Linked DNA regions of Homo sapiens: regions 2, 3 and 4 are each linked to region 1. Evidence: fine-mapped expression QTL. A gene starts in region 1. Each other region holds a variant in brackets. All regions are shown on one strand. Distances are from middle to middle.

What was found. PIP is the estimated chance that this variant, and not a neighbour inherited with it, causes the effect. A credible set is the group of variants that fine-mapping cannot tell apart.
Region 2: its variant is the best candidate, but not a certain one, in a credible set for the expression of GGT7 in whole blood (INTERVAL, PIP 0.54).
Region 3: its variant is the best candidate, but not a certain one, in a credible set for the expression of GGT7 in lung (TOPMed, PIP 0.61).
Region 4: its variant is the best candidate, but not a certain one, in a credible set for the expression of GGT7 in unexposed skin (GTEx, PIP 0.57).

The regions. Positions count from the first base shown.
Region 1 is chr20:34,871,208-34,873,950 of GRCh38, forward strand. It overlaps GGT7 (gamma-glutamyltransferase 7), which reads right to left and starts at 1,649. Exons shown (of 15, transcript NM_178026.3): 1 at 1,440-1,649. The coding sequence starts at 1,608. RefSeq lists a silencer at 1,531-1,820.
Region 2 is chr20:34,921,214-34,923,956 of GRCh38, forward strand. ACSS2 (acyl-CoA synthetase short chain family member 2) reads left to right here. Exons shown (of 18, transcript NM_018677.4): 11 at 117-249; 12 at 331-387; 13 at 573-653; 14 at 2,110-2,218. Among named protein-coding and RNA genes, the nearest start is that of GSS, 33 kb to the right of the region's middle. RefSeq lists an enhancer at 1-826. The variant T/C (reference allele first, on the strand shown) is at 1,104.
Region 3 is chr20:34,947,694-34,950,193 of GRCh38, forward strand. All of the region lies in intron 2 of GSS (glutathione synthetase), which reads right to left. Among named protein-coding and RNA genes, the nearest start is that of GSS, 6.9 kb to the right of the region's middle. The variant C/A (reference allele first, on the strand shown) is at 1,401.
Region 4 is chr20:34,994,791-34,997,533 of GRCh38, forward strand. It overlaps MYH7B (myosin heavy chain 7B), which reads left to right. Exons shown (of 45, transcript NM_020884.7): 28 at 546-788; 29 at 1,556-1,732; 30 at 1,823-1,968; 31 at 2,293-2,383; 32 at 2,461-2,743. Among named protein-coding and RNA genes, the nearest start is that of MIR499B, 5.7 kb to the left of the region's middle. The variant C/T (reference allele first, on the strand shown) is at 1,696.

The DNA of each region.
Region 1 (2,743 bases):
TACAGAGGGCCAGAAGAAAACATGTCAGGCAGTTCCAATCTCTAGGTCAAGAGAGACAGGCATTCTCTGTTGAGCTGGAAGAGGAAACTAAGGCCCAGGACAGGGTAGGTGTGCCTGTTGTCGCTTGGTGAGTCAGGGCTGTATTAGGACCAGAAGTCTCACTCCTGACTACTGAATAAAAGGCCTAGCTTCAGGCTGATATCCATCATGACACATCTTCCCACTCCTCTCCCTGCTACCTCCTGATTCCACTCCCTTTGGAAAATAAGTTTTGATCCGCAGCCCTGACATTTGACGCCCATAAACCTCTAAACTCCATCTTCATTATCTCCTCACCCCCACCCCATACAGAGTGCAGTCCAGTCAGGTTGGCAAGGGCTGCTGGTCAGGGCCAGATGACCAGAAAGTGTAGAGGAGGAGAGAATTTGGGGCTTTCAGGCTGGGAGCAGCTAGGGAAGGGCCAAGCCGGAAAAGCAGCATCTGCCAGGCTGGTAAGAGACAAGGCTCAAGTGCAGGCACTGCGAGGAAGCGAGAGTGAGGTAGAAGGATGCTCTAATGCCAGGAAGTGACGTGCAGGGACAGAGGGATGGGGGATGAAGGATGAAGAATGGAGGGGAGGATGAAGCTGGGCCACATGGCTAGGAGGAAGAGCAGCAGGGAAGGAATGCACAGAGAGCTCTTTGCCCCCAGGTCTCTTCCAATCCCTGTCTCCTCCTTCTCTTACCCCCACTTCTCACAATTCCAGCAGAGGGCTGAGGGGAACACAGTAAAATTCTGGAGACTGCTTCCTAGGGAGCAGAGTACCTTACTAATACCCCGGCCAGATCCATGGCTCAGGGAGGGGTGGGGTAATCCACAGGAGAGTGAAGGCGTTCTAGTCCCCAAGGACTTTTGAGAGGTCATGCAGTCCATGCCTCCGTCTCCCAACACCCAACAGAGGGGAATCATATTCTCTTTACCCCTCCCTAGACATGAAGAGATTCTCCGCTTCTCCCAGACCCTCTGCTTCTCACAATCCCTGGCTGTGGGGAACTTCTCTTAAGGCACAGATTGGATCCCTCTTGCTGCAGTCTCTGACTTGGTTTCTCCTATCCTGTCCTCTGTGGCTAGAGAAAGCCCTCTTCTGGGTGATCACAGCGGTTCCTTAGGATCTCCCCTTCAACATTCCTTCATCGTTAGTTGGTTCTTCCCAGAAGGTAAGCCCAATCCCTTCTACTGCAGTCCCTAGCATCCTCTCCGTTGTCGCATCCTACGCCTCCAAGGCAGAAATGCACCCCCTTCCTCACCAAATAATTAACAGAGACAAGGGAGAAGAAGGGAGAGATCCAAGAAGATGGGGATGAATTAAGGAGATGGAGCTGGAGGTGGATGCTTGACACAGAAGAAGGAAGACCGGGGACTTCCCAAGGCAGGGCAGGGACGGGGTCAGCGGGCCTCACCGGTGTCGGGGTCTCCCAGAAAGGCGTCCTCGTCCTTGCGGCCCCTCAGCGGGGCCGCGGGCGCCGGCTCGTCCTCGGGCAGCCGCGGGAAGCTGGTGATGCTCATGTAGTCCACTGGCGAGTAGGCGCCCAGGGCGCTCTCCTGGCTGGCCTCGTTCTCCGCCGCCATCCTCGCCCGCGCCCCCCAGCAGCGCAGCGCCTGCCGGAAGTGGCTGCGGCGGGGGAGTGGGAGGGCGGAGGGCGGGGCCTGATCTTCGCGACAGCCGGGAGGGGGCGCCTCTCCCAGCCCTCGGCCGTGTCCCGGTCTGACTCGCCCCCGTCTGCTCAGCGCTATCAGCCTGCAGCTGGCACACAGGTGCGTGTAGATGGACAGCCAGGAAGGCAGCGCAGGGTCGAGGGGAGAGCGCGGGGCAAGCGAGACTTCAGTGGCTCTGCACTTTACGCAGCTCAGGGACCAAACCCCTTCCTCCTTCCAGCCTGAATACAGCTAGTGTCCTCCTCAAATCCCAGGCTTCCTTTTCGGGCCCCAGACCCTTTCACTGACCGCAAATCCCTCTCGACCCCAGATCCTGTCTCTGACCCCAAACTCCTCGGACCCCAGACCCCTCCTTGAATTCCGAGATCCTCCTCCTCCGATTTTAGACTCCTCCTCCGACCTTAGACCTCTTTTTCGACTTCAGACTCTGTCTTCACCCCCAAACCCTTTTGAAAACCCCAGCCCATGCTTCATCTCCAGGCCTCTTTGACTGCAGACGCCTCTTTGGACAACAGATCCCTCCTCTGACCTCAGATCCCTTCCCGCACCCCGACACTTCTGACTCCTCTTTCAACCGCATTCTCAAACTTTAGTGTGTGTTAGGATCTTTGAAAGCGGATCCCCAGATTCCACTCCAGAGATCATGATTCAGTAGGCTGGGATGAGGTCCTTGGAACCTGAATATTTACCATCATTTTAAGAGTTTTTGATGTGGTTCTGGAAAGGACACTTTGAGAAAGAAGGAGTGGTGGTAGTGATGGTAGGGCAGGAGTGGGGCAAGGTGGGGAATAGGTCTCCATATTCTGGATGTCTGGGTTCTATTCTGCCACCGCTCAAACACTGTGTAATCTTGGGCAAGACAATTAGTCTCTCTATCAGTTTCCCCATCTGTGAAATGGAAAGAATAATAGTACCCATTTTAGAGGGTTGTCATGAGGATTAAGTAACAGAATGGAAAGCGATTAGTATAGGGCTTGGCACCTACTCAATAAATGGCATCATCATCATCATCATCATTGCCTTAATCTGGTAGATTCATTCCCTCCAA
Region 2 (2,743 bases), 50 kb after region 1:
TTTCCATTGTCCCAACTCTCTGACCTGGAATAGAGGATGGGGCAAGAGAAAAGCCTGGGTATGTGTGTCTTCCAGTAGTACTCAGAGCCTTCCTCTCTCCCATTCCCCTGCCCCAGGCATAGCCGGGCATCCTTGCAGGTGTTAGGCACAGTGGGTGAACCCATCAACCCTGAGGCCTGGCTATGGTACCACCGGGTGGTAGGTGCCCAGCGCTGCCCCATCGTGGACACCTTCTGGCAAACAGAGACAGTGAGTGAAGGGTACAGAAGGCTGGGGCCCAGGGACAATGTGGGAAGATTGACTCAAATTTCTCATCTCTGACTTCCCCAGGGTGGCCACATGTTGACTCCCCTTCCTGGTGCCACACCCATGAAACCCGGTTCTGCTGTGAGTGATGCTTCCCTGGCTGGTCTTGGGCTAGGCAGGGATGGTGTCTTGGGGCACTTGGCCTAGTTAGATAGTGGAGAACTGGACTGACATGTGTGAAGAATTTGGGGTTCTGGGGCCCCTTGGGAGTTGAGTCAGAGTTGCCTCATTCCTCTTCTTGGGTTCTGTCTCCCGTTTGCTTCTAGACTTTCCCATTCTTTGGTGTAGCTCCTGCAATCCTGAATGAGTCCGGGGAAGAGTTGGAAGGTGAAGCTGAAGGTTATCTGGTGAGGCCCTGGCCCTTGGGAGTCTTTAAGGAGAGAGGGAAAGGGTCTGCCAAGGGTACTTTGCTTTAGAGTTAATAACCTAATCTCTCCTGGTAGCTGCTTAGGACTGAAACTTCATGGTTGGAGGTTTGCTCACTGAGAGACCCTGGAGGGGACCCTCGATACTTTGCCTGCATCTCTTCCTTTTGGGCCATAAGTCTCCTAAGGGCGTTTTAAGAGTTGCTCAGATTCCTGATGGTACCTTTTTGGGTCTGGAAGACTAAGTCCCATCTTCTTTTGACAAAGATTCTACAGAAAGGAGGCTTTATAACATAGTAGAAAATCACGTAGGATCTGGAGTCACCCTGCCTGGGTTCGAATCCTAGCTCTGCCTCTTCTGTGACCTCAGATAAGTTATTTAACACCTCTGAATCTACATTTTCTAATTTGTAAAATAGGGTTAAAGTGGTG[T/C]CTCTGGCCGGGCACGGTGGCTCACACCTGTAATCCTAGCACTTTGGGAGGCTGAGGTGGGCGGATCACCTGAGGCCAGGAGTGCAAGACCAGCCTGGCCAACATGGTGAAACCCCGTCTTTACCAAAAATACAAAAAGTAACTGGGCGTGGTGGTGGACGTCTGTAATCCCAGCTACACGGGAGGCTGAGACAGGAGAATCACTTGAACCGGGGAGGTGGAGGTTGTATTGAGCCGAAATTGTGCCATTGCACTTCATCCTGGGCAACAAGAGCAAAATTCCGTCTCAGAAAAAAATAATGCCTTTGTCTCCTATGGTTGCTTGCTTGATTGAGTTAGATAATCCACATGAAGGGGTTAGCAGAGAAACTAACAATTAGTACTTGATAAACATTAGCTGTTGTGATTATTGTATTCATACTTGCAGGAGCCTCACCTGTCCCTTCAACCCCACCCCATTTCACTTTCCCAAGAGCAAGTTAGTAACAGGGACAGGGCTTACATCCAGGCCTTCTGACTCAGCCTAGAATTCCATCCATTCCATCGATCTGCTGCCAAAGAATGTTACTGATTGGGCAATAATTATTTACTTGGTGTGTGGGCACCACTGTTTTTTAAATGAGTGTTTTCATTTGTATCAAACTGGACCTGCTTTCCTCAAGGATTGCCCAAAAGGAGACACAAATTTACTAAACACTTATCAATAATAGAACACCGTGCTAGGCAATTTCCATATACTATTAATTTAATCCTCACAATAACTTTGGAAGACAGAAAGTATTTTCTCTGATTTACAGATGAGGATCCTGAAGCTCAGAGGGGTAAAGTTACTTCTCTGAGGTCACCTAGCTAGTAAGTGGTAGAGCTGGGATTCCAAGCCAGGATCCTCTGTCTCCAAAGCCTGTACTTCATTCAGGACACTTTCCCCCACATTTAGAAAAGCTGTAATTATCTTCCAGTGAGACAGCATAGCAAATGTGATCACTGTCCCTTCCTCACTCCCCAGGTGTTCAAGCAGCCCTGGCCAGGGATCATGCGCACAGTCTATGGGAACCACGAACGCTTTGAGACAACCTACTTTAAGAAGTTTCCTGGATACTATGTTACAGGAGATGGTGAGCCTTAGCTATCCCCCTCTTGCACCTCCCACTAAGACATGTACCTTCCACTTCCATTTTCAGGAAGAGTTGGTGTGTTGCTATAAAATAATACCTGAGACTGGGTGATTTATAAAGAAAAGAGGTTTATTTTGGATCATCATTCTTCAGGCTGTGCAGGAAGCATGGTGCTGGCATCTGCCTATGGTGAGGCCTCAGGTAGCTTCCAATCACGGCAGAAAGCAAAGGGAAAGCCAGTGTTTGACATGGCAAGAGAGGAAGCAAGGGAGAGAGGGAGGAGATACCAGCCTCTTTTAAACAACCAGATCTTACATGAACTCATAGAGTTACTGCAAGTACAGCACCAAGCCATTCATGAGGGATCTGTCCCCCCCGCCCCCCCCACCTCCCCGGCCTTGACCAAAACACCTCCCACCAGGCCCCACCTCTAACACTGGGGATCATATTTCAACATGAGATTTGGAAGGGACAAACATCCAAACTATATCAGTTGGTTAGGGGTAAAGAAAATTAGAGAAGAAT
Region 3 (2,500 bases), 76 kb after region 1:
TCATTATTTTTAATTGCTGTATATTATTCTACTCTTAGGATATACCATAATTTATTGAATCTAGTATATAGGTGGTTTCTTTATTTTCCTATTACCATTAATGTTTCAATGGGTATCCTAGAATATACATTCTAGATATTTTCATATATGAGAAAGTCCATACATTCTAAATTTCTAAAAGTAAAAATATCAAGTAATTCAGGTAAATCTATTTTAAATTTTGGTAGATAATTTCTAAATTACCCTTCTCAGCATCTTTTTTTTTTTTTTTTGGAGTGGGGTCTTACTATGTTGCCCAGACTGGAATACAGTGGCTATTCATAGGTGCCATCATAGTGCACTATAGCCTCAAATTCCTGGGCTCAAGCAATCCTCCTGTCTCAGCCTCCCCAGTAGCTGAGACTGCAGGTGTGTACCACTGCCCTGGCCTCAGCATCTAAGATAAAACTGAGGAAGGCTATTTGTGAGAATAAGGTTTATTCAGTCTGAAGCCTTTATGAGTTAGAATGGGAATGACTGCAGATTACATAAGGGGTGACCTAATACCCTGAGTAGCTATGTGATGACTACAGGAGCATTTCCTTGGCTTGAACACATAGAGCTCTGCTGCCCCCAACAAGTCTCATCTTGGCCTCAAAAACTCAGAGTTTTTCTGCTAAGACATCCCTCTGCCTCTGTCCCAGGGCTCATTATGCCCTCCTGAATTTAGGATCAATAGTTTATAGCTGTTCTCTGCTATCTACAGGCTAAAGGCTGAAACACACAGTCTTCTCACTTTTGATAGAGACATTAACATAAAATGACATTACTGGCCGGGCACGGTGGCTCATGCCTGTAATCCCAGCACTTTGGGAGGCCGAGGCGGGCAGATCACAAGATCAAGAGATCGAGACCATCCTGGCCAACATGGTGAAACCCCATCTCTACTAAAAATACAAAAATTAGCTGGGCGTGGTGGCACACACCCGTAGTCCCAGCTGCTCTGGAGGCTGAGGCAGGAGAATCGCTTGAACCCAGGAGGCAGAGGTTGCAGTGAGCTGAGATCGTGCCACTGCACTCCAGCCTGGCGACAGAGTGAGACTCTGTCTCAAAAAAAAAAAAAGAAACATTTTTCTACTATTTAAAAAAACCTATAGCACGTGCATGACAAAATTCTGCTTTGTAGCCAGGAAGCAACAGGGAGTGATAGGAATTGTGGCAAAAAGAAGTACTTGCATCTTCTCTAAAGGGGGCAGCCAGAACTCTGCTCTAGCCAATTGTTGCCATGCAGGAAAGTAGGCCAGAGTTGCCAGATGATATAATTTTTCAAGACAAGTTGGGTTGCTAGATTTTTTGTTTTAATTTCATGATTTTTTTTTTTAAATGTTGGCTCTGACTTTTTAAAAATACTCTGGTGAAAA[C/A]AACTGTTAACAATGCTTGCCCCTGGTCAGGGAAACAGTGGCTGGAGGAAGGGGACTTACTCTGTACTGAATACCCTTTTGAATTTTGCGCCCTGTTCAAATGTATTTGAACGTATTACTTATTGTAAAAAACAAATTAACTCCCCAAACACTGCAGGAGCCAAATACTCAGCCTAGATATGGCTAGTTTGCAGCTCTGATCTACAGGATAAAGTTCATACTCCTCCTCCACCCAGTAGCTAAGGCCCCGCGGCTGTCTGACGCTGGCCTGCCTTCTTTCCCACTATATCCACTTATGCGCCCTGCATTTCAGCTGCATTCTCTTGAACATTTTTTTTTTTTTTTGCCTTTTCCTACTTTTGGGTCCTTGCTATGCTGTTCCTTTTCCCTATTTGTCTTTTAAGGTCTAGTTCAAATACCACCCCCCATCTCAATCATCTAATCATAATGAACTACTCTTTCTTCCAGCTGTCCTATATAGTATCTTGGGAGAGGAAAAAAAGCATGGATGTTCAGAGCATGGACTCAGGAGCCAAATTCCTTGGGTTCACATCCTGGCTCTGCCAATTATTTTACCATTTAAATAACCTCAGGTAGGTTACTTAGCCTCTCTGGGCTTCGGTTTCCTTATCTCTGTTGTGGTGAGGAGTCAGTGATTCCAAAGTGTTTAGAATAATGCCTGGCACATACTAAATACTCAATAAATGATAGTTAACTTTGTGTAGCAGACTGCCTGTGTTTCCTCATAGAGCTGATGTTATTTAATTTTGTTTTGTGGTATGTTCTCTAACTAGACCAGGAGCCCCAGAGGCTAGGGCTCTGGCTGACTCACCTCTCTGTCCTCAGTGCCTACAATGGCCCGGCATAGAGCAGGCATTTGGTAAAGATTTGGAGTAAAATCATTCTCTCTCTCTCTCTCTCACACACACACACACACACACATACACACACACGTACACTTTCTGACTTTTTTTCTGGATTAGAAATCTCATTGTGGATTACGCCTTTTCTAGGCTCCATAACCTCCCAGAAAGACCAAGTGTTGGATCTTCACATGGTACCTATTGATTAACAGAAGAAACAAAAGCGTGGAAGAGAAA
Region 4 (2,743 bases), 120 kb after region 1:
AAGCTTTCCTGCCTTCGGCACATGGCTTTGTGTATCAATTGTGTGCCAGGCTCAGGCTAGTGCAGGAGGAACGTTGGTGGGAAGACAGAGATGGCCCTGTGGTCACAAAACTCACCTGCTAGTGCAGGAGACTGTGACGCAGCTGGACAGTAAGGAAATGGGGGGTAAGGATACCTGAGCCCTTCCAGGGACTGCCTCCAGGAGCCCGTCCGTGGCTGTGCAGAGGCTGCTGCTGCTCACCCTGCCCCTCGGAAGGCCTCAGCCCAACAGCGGGGCAGTGAGCAGCGGGCTTCCCTCTCAGAACCCTTGTTTGGGCCTCACTCTGGGCCGCCCCGCACTTCTAACTTTCCCCTCTTAATGCTCTGGTGTGTCCCTCTGCGCTATTGCCCTTCCATGCCCAAGAGCGAGTCAAGACATTCCTGAGTTCTCAGAGCACAGCCAAACTTTGCTACAGAGGCAGTTTCCTCTCCAGGGCCTGGCCTGGTGTCTCTCTGCTGGTTTACCTGGCCCTCCCCCAACCTGGCCCCGTTCCGTGTGCCCTCCAGGAGCAGGACAACCTGGCAGATGCCGAGGAGCGCTGCCACTTGCTGATCAAGTCCAAGGTGCAGCTGGAGGGGAAGGTGAAGGAGCTGAGTGAGCGGCTGGAGGATGAGGAGGAGGTGAACGCTGACCTGGCCGCCCGCCGGCGCAAGCTGGAGGACGAGTGCACGGAGCTCAAGAAGGACATTGATGACCTGGAGCTGACACTGGCCAAAGCTGAGAAGGAGAAGCAAGCCACTGAGAACAAGGTGTGGGCCGGGCCAGCTGTGGGGAAGGGCCCTGAGCCAGGGGCCAGCTTTGGGGCCAGGTGGCTGCAGGTCCCACCCCGGCTCTGCTAAGCCTCTGCTTTCTGGCCCTGGGCATGTCACTGCCTTTCCTGGGCCTCAGTTTCTTTATCTGTCAAGTGGGGTTAGCAGCACTTACCCCATTAGGGTAGGTGGTGATGTGTGTAATTGGCCTTTACTGAGCACACGCTCCTAGGCCTTGCACACGGTAGGTGTTTAGCACATGCTGGCAATCCTCATCCATCCCGGAGTGCAAGCCCCTTGAGGGCAGGAACTCCATGTCCCCAGCTCGGCATCCCGCAGGTGACTTCTGCCCTTGAGCCCTCGTGATGGCCCCTGTGGTTCCCAGTGCTGGAGGAGGGACTCCATTACACAGGAGGGAAAGTGAGGCAGGGGTAGGCAGCTTAGGTTCTCACAGGTGCTCACTGAGGAAGCCGGGACTAGGAGGCAGCTGCCCTGAGCACATGCTAATACTGCACATGGCTGGCATCTGTGGATTTCTCACCAGGCCAGGTGTGGTGCTGAGCACTGCGGGTGCATCCACTCGTGAATCCTCATTACAACCCCATGAGGAGGGTCCTTCCCTCAGGCAGAAGCGGTGGAGGCTCGGAGTCAAGTGACTTGCCTGAGTCCCATAGCTGGAAGGGGCACTTGCTCTGACCTGGTGTGGTGTGGTGGCCGCTCAGAGTGCGGGGAAGGGCGTCCCCATTCTGGCCCTGGCCCTGGCACAGGTGAAGAACCTGACGGAAGAGATGGCTGCGCTGGACGAGTCAGTGGCCCGGCTGACCAAGGAGAAGAAGGCGTTGCAGGAGGCCCACCAACAGGCCCTGGGTGACCTGCAGGCCGAGGAGGACCGTGTGAGCGCGCTGAC[C/T]AAGGCCAAGCTCCGGCTGGAGCAACAGGTGGAGGACGTGAGTCAGGGCCACCCCGAGACTGGGTGGCGGGGCCGGGGTGCCGGCTGGCTTGGGCCATGGCTGACCCCTGCTGTGCCTGCTCTGCAGCTGGAATGCTCCCTGGAGCAGGAGAAGAAGCTGCGCATGGACACGGAGCGGGCCAAGCGCAAGCTGGAGGGTGACCTGAAGCTGACGCAGGAGTCGGTGGCTGATGCTGCTCAAGACAAGCAGCAGCTGGAGGAGAAGCTCAAGAAGTAGGTGTGGTGGGGCAGCAGGTGGGGGCCTTCTGAGCCTGCACCTGGCCCTTGTTCCCTTCTGGATTCTTGTGGTTCCTGCGGCATTGCAGAGGTTAAGGGTGGGGGTTGACAGATGGGGCACTGGGGTGCAGGGGTAGTGTCTTGCCCTCCCTGTACTGAGGGCCCTAGCCAGGGTCCAGGGCTGAGGCCTCAGGGCCCAGTGCAGCAGGTGCATGGGGTGAGGTCCCTCAGGGCCTGAAGGGGACTGGGGGGCGTTATGGGGTCCCAGGCGGGTGGGTGGGAGTTAAGGCCTGTGCTGGCCACCCACTCTGTGGCTCCCAGGAAGGACTCCGAGCTGAGCCAGCTGAGCCTGCGGGTGGAAGACGAGCAGCTCTTGGGGGCCCAGATGCAGAAGAAGATCAAGGAGCTGCAGGTGCGTGGGGATCGGGTGGGTGAGGCCTGGGGTCAGAGGCCCACAGAGGTGACAGCTGCCCCACGTGCCCACCCCAGGCTCGGGCGGAGGAGCTGGAAGAGGAGCTGGAGGCAGAGCGGGCAGCCCGGGCCCGCGTGGAGAAGCAGCGTGCAGAGGCGGCGCGGGAGCTGGAGGAGCTGAGCGAGCGGCTGGAGGAGGCAGGCGGCGCATCCGCGGGGCAGCGCGAGGGCTGCCGCAAGCGGGAGGCGGAGCTGGGGAGGCTGCGGCGGGAGCTGGAGGAGGCGGCGCTGCGGCACGAGGCCACAGTGGCGGCACTGCGGCGCAAGCAGGCGGAGGGCGCGGCGGAGCTGGGGGAGCAGG